7 linked regions of the Homo sapiens genome follow. The protein of the gene in region 3 interacts with the protein of the main gene of each other region in a biochemical or structural test. Each region holds a gene or a part of one and is shown on either strand. Other genes may lie near its edges.

The links.
Region 1: the proteins of EIF2AK2 (region 3) and CAPRIN1 form a complex in vitro, tested with the Homo sapiens proteins (one study listed by BioGRID).
Region 2: the proteins of EIF2AK2 (region 3) and TOLLIP form a complex in vitro, tested with the Homo sapiens proteins (one study listed by BioGRID).
Region 4: the proteins of EIF2AK2 (region 3) and DHX30 form a complex in vitro, tested with the Homo sapiens proteins (one study listed by BioGRID).
Region 5: of the proteins of EIF2AK2 (region 3) and MAP2K6, one has a biochemical effect on the other in vitro, tested with the Homo sapiens proteins (one study listed by BioGRID).
Region 6: the proteins of EIF2AK2 (region 3) and DHX58 form a complex in vitro, tested with the Homo sapiens proteins (one study listed by BioGRID).
Region 7: the proteins of EIF2AK2 (region 3) and MOV10 form a complex in vitro, tested with the Homo sapiens proteins (one study listed by BioGRID).

Annotation. Positions count from the first base shown.
Region 1 is NC_000011.10:34,082,731-34,086,230, forward strand, and holds part of CAPRIN1 (caprin-1), read left to right. Parts: intron 1-94; coding exon 95-147; intron 148-224; coding exon 225-311; intron 312-3,333; coding exon 3,334-3,489; intron 3,490-3,500. UniProt on the Homo sapiens protein: mRNA-binding protein that acts as a regulator of mRNAs transport, translation and/or stability, and which is involved in neurogenesis, synaptic plasticity in neurons and cell proliferation and migration in multiple cell types.
Region 2 is NC_000011.10:1,292,633-1,296,132, reverse strand, and holds part of TOLLIP (toll-interacting protein), read left to right. Parts: intron 1-338; coding exon 339-488; intron 489-3,500. UniProt on the Homo sapiens protein: Component of the signaling pathway of IL-1 and Toll-like receptors. Inhibits cell activation by microbial products. Recruits IRAK1 to the IL-1 receptor complex. Inhibits IRAK1 phosphorylation and kinase activity.
Region 3 is NC_000002.12:37,098,710-37,101,845, reverse strand, and holds the end of EIF2AK2 (interferon-induced, double-stranded RNA-activated protein kinase), read left to right. Parts: 3' UTR 1-2,636; downstream 2,637-3,136.
Region 4 is NC_000003.12:47,809,638-47,813,137, forward strand, and holds part of DHX30 (ATP-dependent RNA helicase DHX30), read left to right. Parts: intron 1-1,019; 5' UTR 1,020-1,046; coding exon 1,047-1,074; intron 1,075-3,500.
Region 5 is NC_000017.11:69,522,697-69,526,196, reverse strand, and holds part of MAP2K6 (dual specificity mitogen-activated protein kinase kinase 6), read right to left. Parts: intron 2,684-3,500; coding exon 2,556-2,683; intron 1,297-2,555; coding exon 1,219-1,296; intron 1-1,218. UniProt on the Homo sapiens protein: Dual specificity protein kinase which acts as an essential component of the MAP kinase signal transduction pathway.
Region 6 is NC_000017.11:42,102,715-42,106,214, forward strand, and holds part of DHX58 (ATP-dependent RNA helicase DHX58), read right to left. Parts: intron 3,276-3,500; coding exon 3,022-3,275; intron 2,454-3,021; coding exon 2,304-2,453; intron 2,214-2,303; coding exon 2,052-2,213; intron 1,085-2,051; coding exon 894-1,084; intron 1-893.
Region 7 is NC_000001.11:112,698,659-112,701,239, forward strand, and holds the end of MOV10 (helicase MOV-10), read left to right. Parts: coding exon of another isoform or gene 1-15; exon of another isoform or gene 16-56; coding exon 57-131; exon of another isoform or gene 132-155; intron 156-799; coding exon of another isoform or gene 800-913; exon of another isoform or gene 914-1,026; coding exon 1,027-1,152; intron 1,153-1,235; coding exon 1,236-1,324; intron 1,325-1,560; coding exon 1,561-1,682; intron 1,683-1,757; coding exon 1,758-1,849; 3' UTR 1,850-2,081; downstream 2,082-2,581.

The sequences.
Region 1 (3,500 bases), on a different chromosome or scaffold from region 3:
GCATAATGACGTGTATCTACCAATATCACACAGAGTAGAGTAGTATCACTGACCTAAAAATCCTTTTGTTTTGCACCATTTTTTAACCTCTTAGAACCTGAGCCAGCAGAAGAGTACACTGAGCAAAGTGAAGTTGAATCAACAGAGGTATGATTTTAATTTAATGCTGCCTTTACTTTGCTGCCTTTCAAACAAATGTCTCAAACATTTACTTTGCTTTGCAGTATGTAAATAGACAGTTCATGGCAGAAACACAGTTCACCAGTGGTGAAAAGGAGCAGGTAGATGAGTGGACAGTTGAAACGGTTGAGGTAAGAGTTCTCTGTATTGCAAAGTTGTTGTCTTTGTCTTCAGTTAGTAATTTTTATCTCTACTGAGAACAAATTAAGATTGTTTTTTGCATTATTAGTACATTTATTATAATAACAGACTCATTACACCAGACTGTTACTTCCAAAAAATGAATGTTTATCCCTGTGGATGTTTAATAGGATCCCTGCTTTGCTGAACCAATCTAAAAAAATTATTTTATACAAAGTTATCTGTGGATTAATCTGTTACCATGATTTGTCTCTTACTGAAATTAGGTTGCTCTGTAAAAATCTGGGCTCCCACACTGATAGCTGTGTTTTGGGGTATCATCTTGCACTCCTCCTTTACCCTAATGCTGTTTGGTCACCAGGCTGTAGACTTCCTCTAGCGTTTTCTAATGCTGTCTCTCAACTGATAATGATGATTTTTTTCGGGTCCTCATGTCTAGTTCAGTGACTCTCTTCATATTACTCCTCTCTGACTGCCTCCAGACCATCCTATTCATTGTCACAACTTAATTATTGGAAAAGTTAGCTTTAAGTTACTTGTACTTGAGGCTCTCAGTGATGCCTTGTTACCTGTAAGATACAGTCTAAAAACCTTACCAACTGGTCCTGGCCTTCCTTTTGATCTTCTTTTAGATGTCTTTCTTTACACCCCCAAGGTGCAGGAAAATAGCTGTAAGCTGAGGGTAATATGCTTTTCCTTTTAATATGTTATTCTTATATCAAGACCATTCTCTTGGCCGGGCACGGTGGTTCATGCCTGTAACCCCAGCACTTTGTGGGGCTGAGGCAGGTGGATCACATGAGGCCAAGAGTTAGAGACCAGCCTGGCCAGCATGGTGAAACCCAGTCTCTACTTCAAAAACAAACAAAAACCTGGGCATGGTGGTGCATGCCTGTAATCCCAGCTACTTGGGAGGCTGAGGTACGAGAATCACTTGAACTGGGGAGACAGAAGTTGTAGTGAGCTGAGATCGTGCCACTGCATTCCAACCTGGTTGACAGAGACTCTGTCTCAAGAAGAAAAAAACCCATTTTCCAAAGAGATTGCAAAGTTTTTTTTTTTTGAGAGTCTCACTCTTGCCCAGTAGAGATGGGGTTTCACCATTTTGGCCAGGCTCGTCTTGAATTCCTGACCTCAAGTGATCTGCCCGTTTCAGCCTCCCAAAGTGCTGGGATTACAGTCATGAGCCACTGCGCCTGGCCCATAGATGTTATAATTGTGCCAGCAACTTCATCCCTCTGTTGGAGCACCAAAATGTCCCATTGGTAAGGTAAAGAGAGTAGGCACTTACCCCAGAAAGGTACTTGGGATGAAAATACTGCTCAGGAAGTCCCAACAAAATAGTGTATATTTGCTGAATTAAAGAATGCAGTTCAGAAATGTTATAGGAGGATTAGAAGAGAAATCAATCAAAAAGATTAGTAGAGGTGATTTACAGTTGTTCCTTGTTATACCAGGGGCATTGGTTTTAGGACACTCCCACACACCGAAGTCTGCTCATACTCAAGTTGTGCCATGTATCTGCGGGACCCACATATATACAGGTGTTTCACATCTCAAGAGTACTGGAGGATAAGTGAACCTGTGCAGTTCAAGCCCATGTTGTTCAAATGTCAGCTGTATATATGAGGTGTACAAACCCATTGAGCCTTGACTAAGTCGATGGGATGTATGTTTTTAGGGGAGCCAGGTAATAGGGATGTATAGCATGGATGTAGAAGTAGAAATGAACTATTAACATATTTGTTTTATTGAACATAGAATGCAAGGTAAATATTGACATAGTAGGAAGAAGTTGGGAAGCAGTATACAGTGCTTTGTAGTTAAGTATTTTTTGGATTTTATTTGAGAAGAGCATACTACTTGCCACTGTGCCAGTGTGGTTTGTTCTTTGTATCTAGTAGGTGGGCCTTTCTAAAGGCTATCCACATGAGATTCCACGAATTTTTGGAGCATCCTGAAGTTGGTATTACACAGATTGTTGGTTTCGCTTTGGTAGTGATTTTTATCTGTGTTGTTTATAAAGGGAATAGCTGATTTTGCCTAGTTTCAACCAGTATGACTTGTCCAGTTTTAAATCCAGACAGAATAATATAAATTTGATGTAATAAAAGATAGGATTTCCTTGCAGAGCAGGGAATTACTAAGAACAATAAGCAGAGGAAATTATTAGAGCTGGGAAAAGGCTAATAGAGTGAGCTTTGGCTTCTGTAGCAGTTTAGATGAGTTGGTAAAGCTTGATCCTATGGTGTTGGCTGAGAAAATGGAATGGGAAAAACCCAAATCTTGATGATAATAATAGCTAACATTTCTTGAGTGCTATGTACCAGGTTGTGAGATAGATATATATTTGACATAGATATATAAATCCAGTTACTATAGAAGGCATAACAGTTTTAAGAAAAATACATTATTTTAGGATGTAAACACAGGTAATCTTTCTTTGAAAGCAGCTTATAAAATAAATCTGAGGCTGGGCATGGTGGCTCATGCCTGTATTCCCAGCACTTGGGATGCCAAGGCGGGTGGGTCACAAGGTCAGGAGTTCAAGACCAGCCTGGCCAATATGGTGTGAAACCCTGTCTCCGCTAAAAATACAAAAATTAGCCGGGTGTGTTGATGGGTGCCTGTAATCCCAGCTACCTGAGAGGCTGAGGCAGGAGAATTGCTTGAACCCGGGAGATGGATGTTGCAGTGAGTCGAGATCCCGCCACTGCTGTCCAGCCTGGGTTACAGAGCTAGATTCCGTCTCGAAAGAAAAAAAAATAAATAAATAAGTAAATCAACATGAAATGCTACATAGTGGTCTTATGGAACTGAAACACTGTAGAAGTGATGACATTTTTCAGAATGTTAAATTTGGCATAAATGTAATTCATTTGGGTAACTGCATTAAAGCCCGTTCTGTTTATAGTATAGATGGTTTATGTAGTGTGGGGGACCCATCATGGTGGTAGTGAGTGGAGCTTTTTTGCTCTCCTATTCCTTCTAATCCTTTTTTTTCTACCTTAGGTGGTAAATTCACTCCAGCAGCAACCTCAGGCTGCATCCCCTTCAGTACCAGAGCCCCACTCTTTGACTCCAGTGGCTCAGGCAGATCCCCTTGTGAGAAGACAGCGAGTACAAGACCTTATGGCACAAATGCAGGGTCCCTATAATTTCATACAGGTATGTTCATT
Region 2 (3,500 bases), on a different chromosome or scaffold from region 3:
GAAGCCGTGGGCACACATGGTGCAAGGGAGACCCTTTAAAATGACCTGAAAACCCACCTGAGCAGGCTTTGAGGACAGGAACCCATTTTTAGCGGCAGAAACCTGCATTTGGGGATCTCCTGAGTGAGGGCTGCACCTGTACCGCTGGGGGCCAGGCCCCAGGCTGGACACCCTTGACCCCTCCGTTTAGAGATGAGGAAACTGAGGCTGAGCACAGTCCAGGACTTGATAAGGACATGGGTGGGGGCGGGGCCGCGGGAATGCCGGGGGCAGCTGCTGTCGGGCTGCTTTGTGCCCCCACCCTGACTCACTGGCCTCTCTGGTCCCCGGCCCCGCAGGTGTACATCGGTGAGCTCCCGCAGGACTTCCTCCGCATCACGCCCACACAGCAGCAGCGGCAGGTCCAGCTGGACGCCCAGGCGGCCCAGCAGCTGCAGTACGGAGGCGCAGTGGGCACCGTGGGCCGACTGAACATCACGGTGGTACAGGTGGGCCTTGGGGCACCCTCCTGCCTGCCTGGGGCTGGTGCGCTCGGTGGGGGTGGGATTTCGGATTTCGGCGTTTATACTGCATTTCCTAAGCGGGCAAACAGAACTTCTGATTCCCGCTTTTCCTGAAACCTGTGTGATGTTGAAAACGATCTGTGTGAAAGATATTGGCATTGACCCCGGGTTCTACCAAACATAACTCAAGTGATGAGTAGTGGGTGTAGGTGGGCGTCTGCTCTGTGTAGGGCCTGGCTCTTCCACCAGGCTTGAGTACGCCCAAGGACACCTCCCGGACCCCCGCCGGCAGCTGGAGGAGGCGCGGCCGGCACCCCCGCCACCTGGTGTGTGCTGCGTGAGTGGCTTCCTGTTGGCCTCAGTGCCGGTGCCTGCACCCTCCCTCCCCACAGAGCAGCCCTCGGTCAGCCTCGGGGCCGGCCCGTGGTTGCTTAGTGGTCTTTCAAGTGAAAGCCAAAATCGGCAGATTGAACGCCGATTTTGATCACACGAAAACCGTCTGTAAGACTGCAGGAAAAGGAAACACACTGTGAGCCACGCAGGCTTTCGTAGAAATGCAGGGAAAGGAGACACACTGTGAGCCACGCAGGCTTTCGTAGAAATGCAGGGAAAGGAGACACACCGTGAGCCACGCGGGCTTTCGTAGAAATGCAGGGAAAGGAGACACACCGTGAGCCACGCGGGCTTTCGTAGAAATGCAGGGAAAGGAGACACACCGTGAGCCACCCGGGCTTTCGTAGAAATGCAGGGAAAGGAGACACACCGTGAGCCACGCGGGCTTTCGTAGAAATGCAGGAAAAGGAGACACACCGTGAGCCACGCGGGCTTTCGTAGAAATGCAGGAAAAGGAGACACACCGTGAGCCACGCGGGCTTTCGTAGAAATGCAGGGAAAGGAGACACACCGTGAGCCACGCGGGCTTTCGTAGAAATGCAGGGAAAGGAGACACACCGTGAGCCACGCGGGCTTTCGTAGAAATGCAGGGAAAGGAGACACACCGTGAGCCACGCGGGCTTTCGTAGAAATGCAGGGAAAGGAGACACACCGTGAGCCACGCGGGCTTTCGTAGAAATGCAGGGAAAGGAGACACACCGTGAGCCACGCGGGCTTTCGTAGAAATGCAGGGAAAGGAGACACACTGTGAGCCACGCGGGCTTTCGTAGAAATGCAGGGAAAGGAGACACACTGTGAGCCACGCGGCTTTCGTAGAAATGCAGGGAAAGGAGACACACTGAGCCATGCGGGCTTTCGTAGAAATGCAGGGAAAGGAGACACACCGTGAGCCACGCGGGCTTTCGTAGAAATGCAGGGAAAGGAGACACACTGTGAGCCACGCGGGCTTTCGTAGAAATGCAGGGAAAGGAGACACACTGTGAGCCACGCGGGCTTTCGTAGAAATGCAGGGAAAGGAGACACACTGTGAGCCACACGGCTTTCATAGAAATGCAGGGAAAGGAGACACACTGAGCCATGCGGGCTTTTGTAGAAATGCAGGGAAAGGAGACACACTGTGAGCCACGCGGGCTTTCGTAGAAATGCAGGGAAAGGAGACACACTGTGAGCCACGCGGCTTTCATAGAAATGCACAAATACAGCAGGCAGAAGAATCGCCGTGGACCTCACAAATAAGACTTGCTTTCAGGGGCTTCATGGTGTGGTGAGCACAGCTACACCGTCACCCCTTCCTCGCGGCGTGTCTCAGACCCTTGCTTGTGCAGCTGTTACTGTGCTGGTGTGGCCGATCCCTCTGCCCACCCAGTGAACTCCCGTAAGCCCATGCATTCCTGTGCCAGCTGCCACCAGGCCAGCCAGTGCCATCACCCGTCCTCAGCCGCCACCTCCTGGCAGGGCCTGGTGACCGCAGGGCACTCCACCTCACACAGTTCAAGCTCCAGAGCTGGCTGGGCCTTGGAGGTGGCCCTGGCGTTGCCCACGCCTCTGGCCCCCCTTGGTCCTCTCCCGCACCCTGGAGCCCACCACAGGCAGCCTGTTTCCTCCACGTGAGCTCACCCAGCCTTCTGTGGCGCAGCTCCAGTGGTGGGAAACATTCCTGCCTCCTCACTGGGCCAGGTAGCTCAGCCCCTGTTTCCTGCTTCTCTTGGCTTCTGGGCGGCCACACAGGTGGTTCCCTGCTTGCGTCCCCTCGCTGCTTCCCCTTGTTGTCTCCTGGGGCCCCAGTGGGATGCCAAGGGGTCTGGTCCTCAGCCCTCCTCCCCTCTCTGCCCACACATCCCGGTGACTTCTGCATCCCTGTGGGTCTAAACACCCATGTGCTGGCCCCAGCCTGAGCCGACCACTCAGCTCCACCCCAGATCCCTAGGTACGGACCATGGCCACATGGCCTCCCCAGGTGTTCCGTGGGCACTCCGGACTCCGTGTGCCCAAGGTGGAGCTCTCGGGCCACCCTCCCGGCTTCTCCCCCGTGTCCGCAGGTGGCTGCCCCACACTCTGGAAGCTGAGGCCCAAAGCCCTCGTGCTGCTGGTGCTCCAGGTTCATGTCCACCTCTTGCCCTTCAGGCCTGACCCTCAGCACAGGCGCCACCTTCAGCCCGTCCAGGCCTGGAGCCCCCCGCACCCACCCACTGCCCCCGCTCAGCCCCTGCAGCGTGGCCAGAGTAGGTCCGTTCCCGCGTGGGCCTTTCTCGTGGGCACTGTCCTGCCGAGCCTGCTCCAGCTGGGCCCATGTTTTCCTCACCCTAGTCACTCCTGACCTTCCTCTTCCCTGGCCGTTCTCCTCCCGCTTCCTGCAGCTCTTCCTCCAGATCCTGCAGCCCGCATACCCGGTCCTCCTAGCTGGTCACTCCCTGCAGTGGTAACGCCGTCTGCTGCGCTGTGTGTCTGCCGCGCATCTCTTGCCCATTGTGGGGAAAGCAGCGGTGCCCGTGTGTCCCCACGGTGTCTGCTGTCTGACGTGCGTCTCTTGCCCGTTGTGGGGGAGGCAGCGGTGCCCGTGTGTCCCCACGGTGTCCACAGTGTCTCCTGCACCAGAACAGCATG
Region 3 (3,136 bases):
TGACAAGATTTCCTTAATTATCATATAATAGTCTGTATTGTTTCTATCTCAAAAATACAGTTTTCTTGGTTGTTGAAATCTAGATCCAACATTGCATTTGGTTGATGTGTCTCCTTTACTCTGTAAAATTTACCCCTGCGTTTTAGTTCTTTTCGGCTTTTATTTGTCCTGTGGAATTTCCTCCACTCAGGATTTGACTGAGAGTATCCCCAGAGTGTCCAGTTAGACCTAGAAGCTGGATTTGATCCTGGTTCATTTATTTTCCCCCAAGAATACTCCATAGGTGATGCTATACACTTTCTCTTACATCATTTCAGGAGGAACATGATGTCTGATTGTTCCACTTTCAGTGATTTTAATATTGATCAATGAGTTCTGGTGGTACCAACTACTACAAAGTTTCTCATCAATCTTTCACCTGATGGTTTTAGCAGCTATTGATAATTGTTGCCTGGATCCATTATTTCATTTCAGGGGTTGTAAAATAGTGATTTTCTGGTTCTATCAAACCTCTTGCATTTATCATCTATGATTCTTCTTTAAGGAACTTTCTCTAAATCTGAATGGGAAAGATGCGATAAATATTTATCAAATTTTAGAGTGAGTTAGTGCCCTAGCAACCTCCACAGTTGACAAATGAGTATTTCTTTAAAGCAAGGTATGGCCCAACCAATACTTTGAAACTAGCATGTTTAGAATAGAGCAGGAGGAAACTATATTTGAAAGGTCAGAAGTGGAAAGACTAAGAGGGCCTGAACAATAAGAGGACAGAACCAAGAGGAGTTGGCAACTAATTGGATGTGGGGATTAAGGAAAGGTAAGCATCAAAGATTACCTCCAAGTTTGTTAGAAGGTTAGTAGCAGGATTCTGATGCCATTCAAGTAAATACAAGTCTCAGTCAGATGAACCCCAAGAGCCACATGTATTTGAGGGGTACTTTGTCTCACACTTTTACCTGTTACATGGTTTTCAGTAATTTAGAATTTAAGCCAGTAGTGGGGCGACTGTACATCTATCGACATGGTGAGGTAGAGCATGTTTGGGAGGAAAGACGTTGAATCCCATTTGGTGACAGTGAGCTTGAGGTGCTGCCAGAACACTGCACTGAAGATAGGAGGAGACTGTAGGAAATACAAGATAGGAAAGGTCTCCACTGAAATGTTAACTCTTTCTCTCTAAACGGCCATCCAGGCCTCAATGTCTGCAGTTTCTGATCTGTGATTATGACTTATCCAAATCTTACATTTCTTAAAAATAGTCATAGATGAAGGGAATCACAGTTGATAGTTATATGGTGACATTATTGGCTTAAATTCTAAATAACTAGAAACTGTATAATAGGCAAAACTGTGAGGCAAATAAAATGCTTCTCAAATCTGTGTGGCTCTTATGGGGTTAATTTGATTTGGACCTGTATTAATTTCTTATGGCTGCTATAACTAACAAATTACCACAAACTTGGTGGTTTAAAACAACACACATTTATTCTCTTTCTGTTCTGGAGGCCAGAAGTCTAAAATGAGATTCACTGGGCTGCAGTTCACTGGGCAAGGCCATGCTCCTCTGGAGGCTTCCATGATGCATCCCATATTCAGTGTTTCCCGAGTAAGCCCCACCCATGCAGGTCTGCAGTTTTACCTCAACAGGCTTTTGCACTCAGTGGCTCTCTCCTGTGGTTTCTATCTGAAATTCTCTTCATTTTTTTTTTAATAACTGCTTTATTGAGATATAATTCACATGCCATACAATTCACCTATACAGTATACAATTCAGTAGTGTTTACTATATTCAGAGTTGTGCAACTATCATTTTTCTCACCCCCAAAAGAAACCCTATGCCCGTTAGTATTCACTCTGTTTTCTCACAACTCTAGGTAACCACTAATCTACTCTCCATCTCTATAGATTTGCCCATGCTAGACATTTCATATAAATGGAATCATACATGTGGTCTTTTTCACTGAGTATATTTTCAAGGTGCATCCCAGCTGTGGCATGAATCAGCATCTCATTCCTTTTTATTGCCAAATAATATTCTATCATATGGATATGTCGCATTTTATGTATCCATTCATCAGCTGATGGACATTTGGGTTGTTTGTACTTTTTGGCTACCATGAATAATGCTACTATGAACTTTTGTGTACAAATCTTATGTGGACTTGTTTTCATTTCTCTTGGATGTATATTCCTAGGAGAATGGCTGGATTATACAGTAACTCTTTCCTCATAACTTTGCATATCAAAATTATATCCATCTTTCAGAACCCAAATTCAGTGTTATTTCCAAAGTGTTCCAACATCTCCCACTCAAAATGAATCTTCTCCCTAGTACTCCCATTGTTTAGTACCTAATTGTTCTTACCAGTTTGTCTTAGAGCTCAGTCATTCCTACACAGCACTTTTCTTCATTATACTGCTAATTTCATTACACTGTAAGAGTGGGGACAAGCTGTTCTTCTTGTATACCAGAAAGTAGTGAGTGCACTGCTGTGAAGAAAGCAGGAACTCAAAAGTTAAGAATTTTGAATGAGCCTATAAAATGTGTCTAATAAATAATAATGTTCATTTTCAAATCTCAACAATTAAATGTTTAACAAATAACACTTGAAATAAATGTTTATTAGAAAAACCAATTTGGTATGTTAAAGTATTTATTTTGAATTTCAGAAACTACAGAATTCTGGATTTTTAATTAAGAAAATTAGACATTTTAGAATTTCTAGATAGGACTTTGAAAATAAACATGGCACAATATACACAAAAGTAAATGACAACATGACATTAAATTTTACATTGTTTTGCAGTTTCAAATTTCGTATTAATGTTCTACAACAAATTTTAAAATTCTTTTCAGTGTTTTGCTTCCCTTGGTGTTCATTATTGCCTATTTATAAAGTCATAAAAGGCCTAAAAATAACTTGTTACTCATATTGAAAGTCTGATTTTTTTTTTATTCCCTTAAGATGGAGGTCTCTCACTATGTTGCCCAGGCTGGTTTCAAACTTCTGGGCTCAAAGGATTCCCCATCTCAGCCCCCTGAGTAGCTGGGACCAAAGGCATGCACCACTGCACCCGGCTGAAAGCCTGTATTTTTATCTTTCGATGGACAACAGAGGGATATCTCCCACTCTCT
Region 4 (3,500 bases), on a different chromosome or scaffold from region 3:
CATCCCTTGGGGAGTGGAGGCCATCAGGGCAGACCTGCTATGGACCTGAAAGATTCCGCCCCAGGTCAGCCCTCCACTCCCCACCTCCCCACAATTTGAGAATGAGAGGGAACAGGAGTCAGGAGCCGGAGTGTTGGCCCCAGTAGACTCCAATCAATGTTGGACATGATTCTGATTGGCTAAACACTGTGTAGATGTTTTTAAACAAAGTCCATTTAAGGTTACTGCACTAATCAAGGAGTACTGGATTATAAAAACATCTATAAATCTGAGTTTGAGTATTTTTTAAAACAAAATTGTTAAACCAGATGTGTTGCTTTTTTTTCTTGTCATCTCTAAGTATAGTCCTCAGTTAAATATACTAATAAGCAAAATGCACCAAAACTTTTGGCTAATAGTTGTGCTTTAACTTAATATTTGTTATTTCATAGAGACTGCTATGAAAAGCTTTTTATTCTGAATCACTGTACAGTTATTCTTTGATCCTGTCAGTCAAATCTCATTTTTAGGGTCTTGACTAGGTTTTATGAAAGCCCAGTAAGGCAGTTTGCCCATAAGGCAGTCATCAGTCCTGTTTCCTGATGCCACATGACAGAAGGGGTCCATGTAGAATTTCGTTTCTTCCTGGAAGTCCCAAGGAAACCTGCAAGTATTATGATAACTAGGAAGGAAACCTGCAAGTATTATGATGAACTGGGAAGGAAACCTGTAAGTATTATGATGAACTAGATAGAACTACATGTCTCTCATGATGAAATGCATCTCCCTCTGTTTAACAGGATATGGGGAGTTTTAGGACAGGGAAGAAAGTGCTCAATTAGAAAGAAGCAAAGACAATTACTCTAGAGTGGAGCTGGCCTTCCAGTCCTCAAGACTGGGGAGCAGCAGTTGGGGCTCATTAGTGAAGAGTTTCATTTTTTTCATTTTCTGAACAGTGCTCTCCATGTTACTGAAGTCTTCTTTGTGGGTTGCTGGACCAGGAATATTAACCATTGCCTCTTGGCCCTCCTTGTTCTCAGGATTCCAGCTTTCCCTCCTGGCCAGAAATGTTCAGCCTGGACTCATTCAGAAAAGGTAAGACTGCAACTGTGCTTGTGACCTCATGCCCTTCCTTATTGGGATGGGCAGCTCTGAGGGCTGTGAAAGTCTCTCCCCAGTATGTAGTTCTTGCACATTTCTTTGGGTGGTTTTCCAAAGGCCTTTCCTATAGCCTTCCTTTTGCATGGTGCTTAGAATCTGTGCCAACCCTTGCCATGGCCTTTGCCATGCTTCCTCCCAGTGCCCCCTTCTGCGTACTCCCTGCTTATTAAAATCCTTTTTTTTTTTTCTGAGATGGAGCCTCACTTCTGTCGCCCAGGCTGGAGTGCAGTGGCACGATCTCGGCTCAGTGCAATCTCCTCCTCCTGGGTTGAAGCAATTCTCCTGCCTCAGCCTCCGTAGTAGCTGGGATTACAGGAACCAGCTGCCAAGCTCGGCTAATTCTTTTTTTTTTTTTTAGTTGAGACGGGGTTTCACCATGTTGGCCAGGCTGGTCTCAAACTGTTGACCTCAAGTGATCCACCCACCTCGGCCTCCCAAAGTGCTGGGATTACAGGTGTGAGCCACCGTGGCTGGCCTCTAAAATCCTATTTTTCTAGGCTAGTATTTTATACCATCTCCTTCATGAACCTTTCCTAATTCTGTTGACCAAATGCAATCTTTCTCCAATCTTCCTCGGTACCATACCTGTTCGTTCTCATGGTTAGTCTATTCTGAATTAATCATTTTGTCACTAGATTGGAAGCTCCCTGTAGCCAGGGCCTGTTGTGTGCTTTTACGATGCATAGCACCTGGCCAGCATTTCGCACATAGTAGGCCTCAGTAAACACTGGTGGAAGTTGGATTGAGTCTGTATTAGGCTGTTCTTGCATTGGTATAAAAAAATACCTGAGACTGGGTAATTTATAAGAAAAGAGGTTTAATTGGCTCACATTTCTGCAGGGTGTATAGGAAACATGGTGCTGGCATCTGTTTGGCTTCTGGGGAGGACTCAGGGAGCTTTCACTCAGGGGCAGAAGGTGAAGCGGGAGCAGGCGTGTCACGTGGCAAAAATCAGGATCCAGAGAGAGAGAGTTGGGGAGGTGCCACACAATTTAAACAAGATTGGCTGGGCATGATGGCTCACGCCTGTAATCCCAGCACTTTGGGAGGCCAAGGTGGACGGATTGCCTGAGCTCAGGAGTTCCAGACCAGCCTGGACAACACAGTGAAACCCCATCTCTACTAAAATACAAAAAATTATCCAGGCGTGGCAGTCTGCGCCTATAGTCCCAGCTACTTGGGAGGCTGAGGCAGGAGAATAGCTTTAACCCGGGAGGCAGAGGTTGCAGTGAGCCGAGATTACACCACTGCACTCCAGCCTGGGCAACAGAGCAAGACTCAGTCTCAAAAAAAAAAAAAAAAAAGGCCATGTGTGGTGGTGGGCACCTGTAATCCCAGCTACTTGGGAGGCTGAGGCAGGAGAATCGCTTGAACCTGGGAGACGGGTTGCAGTGAGCTGAGATCGTGCCATTGCACTCCAGCCTGGGCAACAAGAGTGAGATGCCATCTCAAAAATAAATAAATAAATAAATAAAATAAACAACAGGATCTCATGAGAGGCTGGGCGCAGTGGCTCACACCTGTAATCCCAGCACTTTGGGAGGCCAAAGTGGGCGGATCACTTGAGGTCAGGCATTTGAGACCAGCCTGGCCAACATGATGAGACCCGTCTCTACTAAAAATACAGAAAATTAGCTAGGCGTGGTGGTGTGCACCTGTATTCCCAGCTACTTGGGAGGCTAAGGCACGAGAATTGCTTGAACCCAGGAGGTGCAGGTTGTAGTGAGTCAAGATTGTGCCACTGCACTCCAGCCTGGGCGACAGGGCAAGAATCCATCTCAAAAAAAAAAAAAAGATTTCATGAGAATTTACTCACTATCACAAGGATAGTAGCAAGCCATGAGGGATCCATTCTGTGACCCTTCAACAGCAGAGATTACATTTCCTTTTTTTTTTTTTTTGAGACGGAGTCTCACTCTGTTGTTGCCCAGGCTGGAGTGCAGTGGCACGAGCTTGGCTCACTGCAACCTCTGCCTCCCGGGTTCAAGCAATTCTCCTGCCTCAGCCTCCCGAGTAGCTGGGACTACAGGCGTGTGCCACCACACCCGGGTAATTCTTGTATTTTTAGTAGAGATGGGATTTCGCCATATTGGCCAGGCTGGTCTGTAACTCCTGAGCTCAAGTGATTTCGCCCATCTCGGCCTCCCAAAGTGTTGGGATTACAGGCGTGAGCCACCAGCAGGAGATTACATTTCAACATGAGATTTGGGTAGGGACAAATATCCACACTATATCAAAGTCATTCTTTCGTTAGTGATCATAGAAACTCTGGCAAGTCTTGCCGGGCGCGGTGGCTCACGCCTGTAATCCCAGCACTTTGGGAGGCCGAGGCAGGCGGATCACGAGGTCAGGAGATTGAG
Region 5 (3,500 bases), on a different chromosome or scaffold from region 3:
AGCCGAGCATCTACTGCCACCTTCAGGTCCCTTGGTGAAATGACAGGGAGAAAAAGCAACCTAGAACCAAATGACAGATCTTTTTTTGGACTTGAGAAAAGGCCACTTTGCATTACAGGATCATGTGCTTTCTGGGCAGGCAGGAGAAATAACTCATGGGATTTATTCAGCTGCTGTGCCTGGGGAGGAGCCAGGACCACAGTGGATAATTCCAGACCTTGGTGATCCACTGAAAATGTATGACCACCAAAGTTATGAAATTTACAATCACCAAAGTTATGAATAAGTTATGAATAAATCATATAACTTTAGGGCTGTGTCTAAGGAAATCATCCTATTGGTTATCATGTATTGAGGATATACCTGACTGATACGGTTGGGCTGTGTCCCCACCCAAATCTCATCTTGAATTGTAGCTCCCATAATTCCTACATGTTGTGGGAGGGACCCAGTGGGAAACAATTGAATCATGGGGGTGGTTCCCCCATACTGTTCTATGGTTCTCATGGTAGTGAAAAAGTCTCACGAGATCTGATGGTTTTATGAAGCATCTCCCTTTTCACTTGGCTGTCTCATCTCATTCTCTCTTGTCTGCCGCCATATAAGATGTGCCTTTCACCTTCCGCCATGATCGTGAGGCCTCCCCAGCTGCATGGAACTGTGAGTCCATTAAACCTCTTTTTCTTTTAAATTACTCAGTCTTGGGGATGCTTTTATCAGCAGTGTGAAAACGAACTAATACACTGACCTGATCAGACTTTGACTTCTACTTCTCCAATAAAAATATCCTGGGAAGCATAGTCTATGTCCTGGATAACACGGCCCTATCAGGGTTCACGCACATTAGCATTCTTTGCACAGCTTAAGCTTCTTGCCTTGGCTCGAATAATTTAATTTTAAACTATAAGGAATCTGGTCAGATCCTCTCGTTTTACAGAGGAGGATAGGAAGATAGTCCATGTGACTGTAACAATTACTCAAAAAGGCATACAGCTCGTCAGAGGTGGAATCAAGAGAAAGATTGGTTTCCCCAATCCCATATCAGTGTTTTTATTGTACCACAATACAAACAATTATTACTCAAAATCTCCTACCAGCTCAGCAGGAGAGGGCGCCCCAAACCAGCATTTAGGGCATTTGTTTCTTGAACCCAACGTCCACCTCATTCTAGTTTCATTACCCACAACCTCATAGTTCATGATGATTGGCATACACTACCATCGTGATGCCCAGACTCCAAATGTCAGACTTCACACTGTATCCCTTCTGGTTGAGCTCTGGGTTTATTCTTTCAGGCTGGAAAGAAGACAGACAACTGAGAAACTGGGAAGACAATTGAGATAACGTTCTTAGCTCAATAGTCTCTGGGGATGGGGGTAGCACCAGCTGCCAAGTGAGTTGTTATAAGCTGTTAACATGCCACCAAGGCCAAGAAGACCCGGTTAACTACAACAAATATCAATGCCTCCGTGGGGTTTCCCTTCTTCTGTGTTTGTCTTTTCTTGGACACAGTAATGGATCAAGTTCCTTTCATAACAAATTTAAAATTTGCCTTAAGAAGAAACAGGGTATACATTATAAAGCTACTTTGCCCATCTAGAATTATCCTTGTTTAAAACATGAACAGTCCAGAACTCAATAAAACAAGTGTCACTGGGCTACTGTCCCATGCTAATAGACCTGAGCAATTTTTAGCTAAACACAGACAGGAAGCTTTTCAATTCAAAGCACAAGTCCATTTCCAGGTAGAATCTAGTGGCCGTTCCTCCAGTTAAAGGGGATTGCAAGGTCTCTGCTAATGACGGTGAATCTTCACAGCTGTGAGGTCCTCTCATAACTAATCTAACTGCCTTGTTTGGGTAATTTAAGCTCTATTTACTATTTTGTCCTCAACAAACAAGGTAATACTCCCCTGCAATACAGTGTGGAAAACTGTGCAGGCTATATGTATTGTGTATATATTTTTTCAAATAACGTATCTCTTTCACTTGATTTTTTTAAAGTAATATATATATAACTATGTCTGTGCCCCACCAAAATCCACAGGTTAAAACCTAATCGCACATGTGGTGGCATCAGAAGGCAGGGCCTTTGGGGGGTGATTGAATCATGAAAGTGGAATACTAATGAATAGGATTGGGGCCCTTATTAAAAAAGCCCTAGAGAGATCCCTCGCCCCTTTCACCGTGCGAGGACTAAGCAGGAAGGTGCTATGTATGATCCTGAGAAACGTGAGCCCTCATTGGACACCAAATCTTCTGGTGCCTTCATCTTGGATTTCCTAGCCTCCAAAACTGTGAGAGATAAATTTCTGTTGTTTATATGCTGCCTGGCTTACATTACTTTGCCATAGCAGCCTGAACAAACTAAGACAATATACGAAGCAAGTGAGTAAAGATTTCAGACATAAAATTTTGAAGAAATACTAAGAGGCAGACTACTTCTGGAGTCTTAGGTACATTTCCATTTTCCCTCTGTGGCCATCCATTTCTTGTTTCCCAGCATGATTTGTCGGCAGTGACATTACCAGATGCCACCCTAGCTAATGTACTTACGGCCATGTATGGTTTGCAACCTGCATCAATTGTTTTAGCAACAGAGTCCACCAAGTAGCCACTGATTCCAAAATCGCACATCTTCACTTGACCGAGAGCATTGATGAGTACATTAGAAGGCTTGACGTCTGAAAGCGAAAACAACCAGGATGCCATCATTTCAGCCTGCTTTCAAGGTTCATTTCTCTGCCACCAGAGGGCCTAAAATCTCCATTTGTCCTTCATCTTCCTTTCCCCAAGCTGCCCAACACAGAAGTAACTGCCATCCCTGACCCACAGTTAACAACAGCTTATTGCTTTCAACTTGATTTTCTATTTCATGTTTTGTTCATGCCTTGTAGAATTGTGAATTTCTCCATACAAAGAACTGTTTTCTCCACTGATTTTATGATCTTCATTACCCTCATACTTGTAGTAAGAGCCTAAAAAATTATTACTGAATCAAATGTCCAATTCAAAATGATCTATTGATATTTAACGTAGGAGTAATAAAACAAAGAACAAAAAGGCAGACTGTGACACAATGATACACCAAATATGACCAAAGCAACCTTTGTTTTTGTTTGGTTTGGTTTTTTCTTCAAGATAAGGTCTTACTCTGTCACTCAACCGGTGTGCAGTGGTGTGATCATAGCTCACTGCAGCCTCAAACTCCTGGGCTCAAATCATCCTCCCGCCTCAGTCTCCTGAGTAGCTTGGACTACAGGTGGGAACCACCATGCCCAGCTAACTTTTTTTTTTTTTTTTTTTTGACAGACAGGATGTCTCTTTGTTGACCAGGCTGGTCTCAAACTCCTGGCCTCAAGCAGTCCTCCCACCCCACCTCCCAAAGGGCTGTGATTACAGGTGTGAGCCACCAAGCCTGGCCCAAAGCAACAGATTTTGATTGAAACCTCTGCTAGCGATGTGTCAGAGGTCACATAGTGTAAAGGATCATAAACCCAG
Region 6 (3,500 bases), on a different chromosome or scaffold from region 3:
GACCTTTCAAATCTTCCACGGGCTAGTCTGTCTTTTTCTAAATCTCATTATTCACAGTCCCTTCCACTCAGGTCAACTGGTGTCGCTTTTTTTTTTTTAAAGGCAGAGTCTCACTCTATTGCCCAGGCTGGAGTGCAGTGGTGCGATCTTGGCTTGCCTCCCGGGTTCAAGTGATTCTCATGCCTCAGCCACCCAAGTAGCTGGGATTACAAGCATGGGCCACCACGCCCAGCTAATTTTTGTATTTTTTTTTAGTAGAGAAGGGGTTTCAATATGTTGGCCAGACTGGTCTTGAACTCCTAACCTCAAGTGATCTACCCACCTCCGCCTCCCAAAGTGTTGGAATTACAGGCGTGAGCCACTGCACCTGGCCCTCCATGGTTACCTTCTCATTCGCTCACATTCAAACCAGACCCATTGAGACCTAGCTGAAATGCAACCTCCTCAATTGAGAAAATCTGTGTGAAGATCCTTGGCACAGTGGCCCGGAACACAGAGGGTAACATAATGAATGGATGGAGGATGGGGGAAGGTTACTCTCTAGGAGATAGTGGATGGAGGATGGCCCAGGGATGGCCAAGCTCTCTTGATATCTTCGGAATAGGTAGGACCAGAGGGTCAATGTGTGGTCTTTTGACACTTAGTATCCTGAATTCCAGTTCTTGCTCAACCAGATAGTGGCTGTGGGAACTTGGGCAAGTCACATAGCCTCTCTGAGCCTCTATTTCCTTGCCTGTAAAATGGAGACAGGGATAAAACCTGTCTAACCAGATTATTGTGAAAATGCAAAGTACTTGCTACAATGCTCTTTAGCTTCCCAAAGCTTCAAAGCACTGTCTGGATGGGAAGGATTCCCAGGCCCCCATCCCAGTAGCCCCTTCCACAGGTCTCACGAGAAGTTGGGGTTCACATTGACATGGTGGGTGCCCTCCACCTTCCGCAGGTCGCTGCCATGGCCCACAGCCACCATGCAGTTGATGCAGAGTAGCTGCACGTGCTCCACTGGGAACTGCTGCCGCTGGTTCTCCCGCTGGGCTGCCTGGGCCGCCCGCTTGGTCAAGGCTGCCTGCTGCAGATCCCGGATCTGGGGTGGGAGGAGACACCAGGCATGGCTGGGGCCTAAGAGAACGTTCCTTGGGGGACAAAAGGTTCCCAAAGAACTAAGATCATTTGTACCTGGAAGAGACTTTCCTTAACCCTCCCTGGAGCTTAAAAGAAGCTCTATTGCTGTGATGATGCAGTAACTCATGCCTGTAATCCCAGCATTTTGGGAGGCCAAGGCGGGTGGATCACGAGGTCAGGAGTTCGAGACCAGCCTGGGCAACATGGTGAAACCCCATCTCTACTGAAAATACAAAATTAGCCGGGCATGGTGGCGCATGCCTGTAATCCCAGCTACTCGGGAGGCTGAGGCAAGAGAATTGCTTGAGCCCAGGAGGTGGAGATTGTGCCATGCACTCCAGCCTGGGTGACAGAGTGAGACTCCGTCTCGGGGAAAAAAAAAAAAACAGCTATGGAGAAAAACAGTATGAGTAGTCGGGGGCAACAGTGGGAGGGGTAAGCTTTCCTGCTCAATCTTGAAGGACTTTAGGCAAAGCTGCTTCTGTGAATCTGTCATGGGGCATCATTAACAATTATGCTGGGACAACAGGGAGCACCCTGGACAAGGCAGGATGGTGGTGGCCCTGCCTCAGGGGAACTGATGATATAAGTCCTAGTTCTGGGCTTATCTTCTGCACGTGGACTTATCTTGTCCCCTCTGCCTGGTTCCAGAAAGGCTGTAATGCAGCTCTTCCAGATACATAAAGTATCTCATGGCAAAGATAAATAAAGAGCCTTGGACAAGGCCTGTTCCCAAGGCCTTCTGGAGTCCAGGTACTGCCTTCCCTGGCAGCCCCACCCCGGCCCTTATTTAAACCTTCCCTAGGTGGCCAAAGTTAGCCCCGAGATGTAGAGGGGACAGGGGGACGTATGTGTGCAGTCAGAAACCTGCCAGGGAGGGGCTCCCTCCTCCCCATCCCTCCCACAGGGCATGCAGGCTGCCTGCAGACCTTGGCCTGGTACTCGGCCTGGTCCATTTTCTGCACAGCAGCCACTGCCTGCTCCATCAGCGTCTCCAGCGCCTCGTTGATCAGCTCCCGCTTCAGCTCCCGGCTACCTTCAGTTGCTACAAACGCGTATACACTCTGATCGGCCCGGGCACGGCCCCTGGCCTGGGAAGAGAGACAAGGGGTGTCCTGAGTTGGGCTGGGGCCCCACACAGGATCCTATAAGGGCGGCTGAGTGGAGGAGGATGTGAGTACCTGGACCATGGAGATTTCATTGGTCAAGAGCCCATAACGCACCACCACATTGCAATGTGGGATGTCCAGCCCCTCCTCCGCCACACTCGTGGCCACCAGAAGGTTCAGGGTTCCATCTTGGAACTTCTGGATCACTTCTTGCTGGTCCCTCTGCAGGCGGAGGGCAGGGAGGAGAAAGAGGCTGGTACATGAGGAGGCTCAGACTGACTCCACCTGCCAGAGTAGCCTCTTCTGGTTCAGCCCTCACTCCCAATCTTGGTCCATCTCCCTAGAGTACTTGAATCCCATCTTTATCCCCAGGTACCCCCAGGATCTTGCCCATCTTCCCAGGTAACTGTCCAACCCCTATCTTCCCTAGGGACTCCTAAGGGTCCCTGCCCCTCTAGTCTAGGAAAAACTCTCAAGCCATAGTCTTCTGCAAGGGACCCCAGACCTGATCCTGTGCCCTGAGGAACTGCATCACCCACCTCTTTCCCTACGGACCCCCATGCCCAACCTTCTGCCCCCAAGGACCTCCAGACTGGGAGAGGCTCCAGCACTGGGGAGGTCAGTGTCCGCCCCTCTCCCCTAGCTCCTTGCCCCTCTGCCTGGGGATAGTCAACTTTCTCTTTCCCCAGGGTCTCCCTGCCCCCACCTCTCTGTGCTGAAGACCCTGTTCCCCGCACTTCTCTCCTATGGAATCCCTCCCAGCGCCAGCATCTTTCCCCGAAGCCCACACCTGGGTCATGTGGGTGCTCTGGCTGCTGTTCCCAGCCCCAATCAGTAGCTGGGCCCGGATGTCCACAGTCTGCAGGCCCTGCTGCTGCTGGAGCCAGAGCAGGAGGGAGTGTGCGCTTTGGCGGGTGCGGGTGAAGATGATACCCCGAGGGCTGTTAGAGCTACTGAACTGCCTTTGCAGGATCTTTTCCAGCATCTCCAGTTTTGGATTCTCTGGGCCATGAGTTGCCAAGTGGGCCAGCTCATTCTTGCGGTCTGTCAAAAACCCCAAAATTTAGCTGGGTGTAGTGGCACATGTCTGTAGTCCCAGATACTTGGGAGGCTGAGGGCAGAAGGATCGCTTAAGCCTAGGAGGTCAAGGCTGAAGAGAGCTATGATTGCACCACTGCACTCCAGGCTGTGTAACAGAGTGAGACTCTGTCTGGGAAAAAAAAAAAGAAAGCAAGAAAGCAAGAGAAAGAGAGAGAGAGAAAGAGAGAA
Region 7 (2,581 bases), on a different chromosome or scaffold from region 3:
TCCCTCTTGCATTAGGTTAATGGCACGAGAGAAAGGCACCTGTCCCCTCCTTCCAGGTGGAGAAAATCCGTTACTGCATCACCAAACTTGACAGGGAGCTTCGAGGACTGGATGACATCAAGGACTTGAAGGTGACATGCTGTTCCACAGTCACTCCCTGCCTTCCGTGTGCCCCCACTTGCCCACTTCCAGAGACTTCCTCAAGCTTCCACTCCAGCCCACGTCCCCGTCCCACCCCTGCTGCCTTGAATAGAGCTCGAGCTCTCCCTGAGCCTCTCACTCCTGGAGATTCCAACTTAAGGGTCTGGGATGGGATCAGGAAGCCTGCATGTTTAACAAACACCTCCTGTCATTCTTAGACTGAGGCAGGTTTGAGGCCTCTGCCCTAAGGATAAAGTCCAAATTCCGTGGCCTGTCATGTGATGCTGCCACCCCCACCCCCAGTAGCCTCTCTCTTAAGGTTCTGGTCTCAACACTGGCTGCAGATAACAATCACCTGGAGAGCTTTTAATACCCCGCCCCCATGCCAGGGCCCCACCCACCAGCTCATACAGCTATCGGGGCAGAGCCAGGGCACTGGTAGTTTTTACAGCTTCTCAGGTGATTCTAATATGCAGCCAGGGTTGAAAACACTGCTCTAAGACTTACAGGCCTCTCTCTTGGAAATTCTGATCGGGGGTCCGGGTTAGGGCCCAGGGTTGTATATTCTTAACAGATACTTAGTGATTGTTTTCAGGAAAGTTTGAAAGTCACTGCTCTGAGTTCCCGTGTTCTTTGCAATGCTGTTTTCTTTCCTTAGAACACTTTGCAGGCCCCAGCCCTCAGCAGGATTCAACCTTCATGTTTCAGCTTCCACAGCCTACCTCCCATCCCCTTTCCCTGGGCCGTGTCGCAGCACTGGTTCACTCACTGATCTACAATTGCCCAGTGACCTCTCTGTACCCTCCTTGGAAGGCAAGCTCCCTGGGGTAGGGCACCCCTTTGACACCCCTGGCTGGTCTCAGGCCCTGCCTCTTTCCCCACTAGGTGGGTTCAGTAGAAGAATTCCAAGGCCAAGAACGAAGCGTCATCCTCATCTCCACCGTGCGAAGCAGCCAGAGCTTTGTGCAGCTGGATCTGGACTTTAATCTGGGTTTCCTTAAGAACCCCAAGGTTTGAGGGCTGGTCGGGGTGGCAGGAATTCTTCCATTCTCGGGGCTCTTCCCTCCCATGACCACACCACTTCTTCCTTCCAGAGGTTCAATGTAGCTGTGACCCGGGCCAAGGCCCTGCTCATCATCGTGGGGAACCCCCTTCTCCTGGGCCATGACCCTGACTGGAAAGTGTGAGCATTCCCACCCCATTCTCCCTCTTAGTGGCCACAGCCCCTGCCTAGGGCAGGTGGATCTTTTTTAAGCGCTTGCTTATCGCTCAGTTAATCCTCAGATGTGTCCATTTTCACAGCATCACTATTGTATTTATAAGTTAAATGACATCCAGAGGTTGAGCAAGTACAGCTCAGATGGGACAGGACCGTGGCTTAGCCTCCAGTCTCTGCTGGCACTCCTCTGTACCCCACAGATTCCTGGAGTTCTGTAAAGAAAACGGAGGGTATACCGGGTGTCCCTTCCCTGCCAAACTGGACCTGCAACAGGGACAGAATTTACTGCAAGGTCTGAGCAAGCTCAGCCCCTCTACCTCAGGTATGGCTGGGCCAGGGTGGGGACAGTGCCAGAGGAGGTGGTAAGGAAGACACAGTGTACTTTCTCTCTTTCCAGGGCCCCACAGCCATGACTACCTCCCCCAGGAGCGGGAGGGTGAAGGGGGCCTGTCTCTGCAAGTGGAGCCAGAGTGGAGGAATGAGCTCTGAAGACACAGCACCCAGCCTTCTCGCACCAGCCAAGCCTTAACTGCCTGCCTGACCCTGAACCAGAACCCAGCTGAACTGCCCCTCCAAGGGACAGGAAGGCTGGGGGAGGGAGTTTACAACCCAAGCCATTCCACCCCCTCCCCTGCTGGGGAGAATGACACATCAAGCTGCTAACAATTGGGGGAAGGGGAAGGAAGAAAACTCTGAAAACAAAATCTTGTTCTATGCAAAAGCCTTGATAATGTCTCCTCTGCCTGGCCCCAGCTTCCTGAGCCCCTAAGCTGACCCTGTAGGGAAGGGTGGGACTTTCAGCCCTGCTGAGGGTCACATCCCCTCCCAGCTGGAGAGGAACCCAGCCCCCACACTCGGGGGAGGAAACCCAGTGGGAGGTGGCAGGGAAGCCACCCACAGGTTTCTAAGTTTAGCCCCCTGCTACAGACCACTCCCTTCACCCGCCTCCTTGGCCCAGAGCCAGGCATGACCTCATCCTTTGCTCTAAGACTCCACCCTGCTGGCCACTGGCCTGCTTTGTAGACAGGGGGCCAGGCTGGCAAGCAACTTGGACATGAAAAGAGATGGGACACCAAGCACCCAGAGGGAAAGACCGAAAGCTGCCACACACGTTGGAGCCTGTAGCCTTTATTCATGCCCCCCTGACCAAATGCAGTGAGAGACAAGGCCCCTGCCGAAAACAACTCCAGGGGCCTGGGACTCTGGGTCCCCTACTGCAGA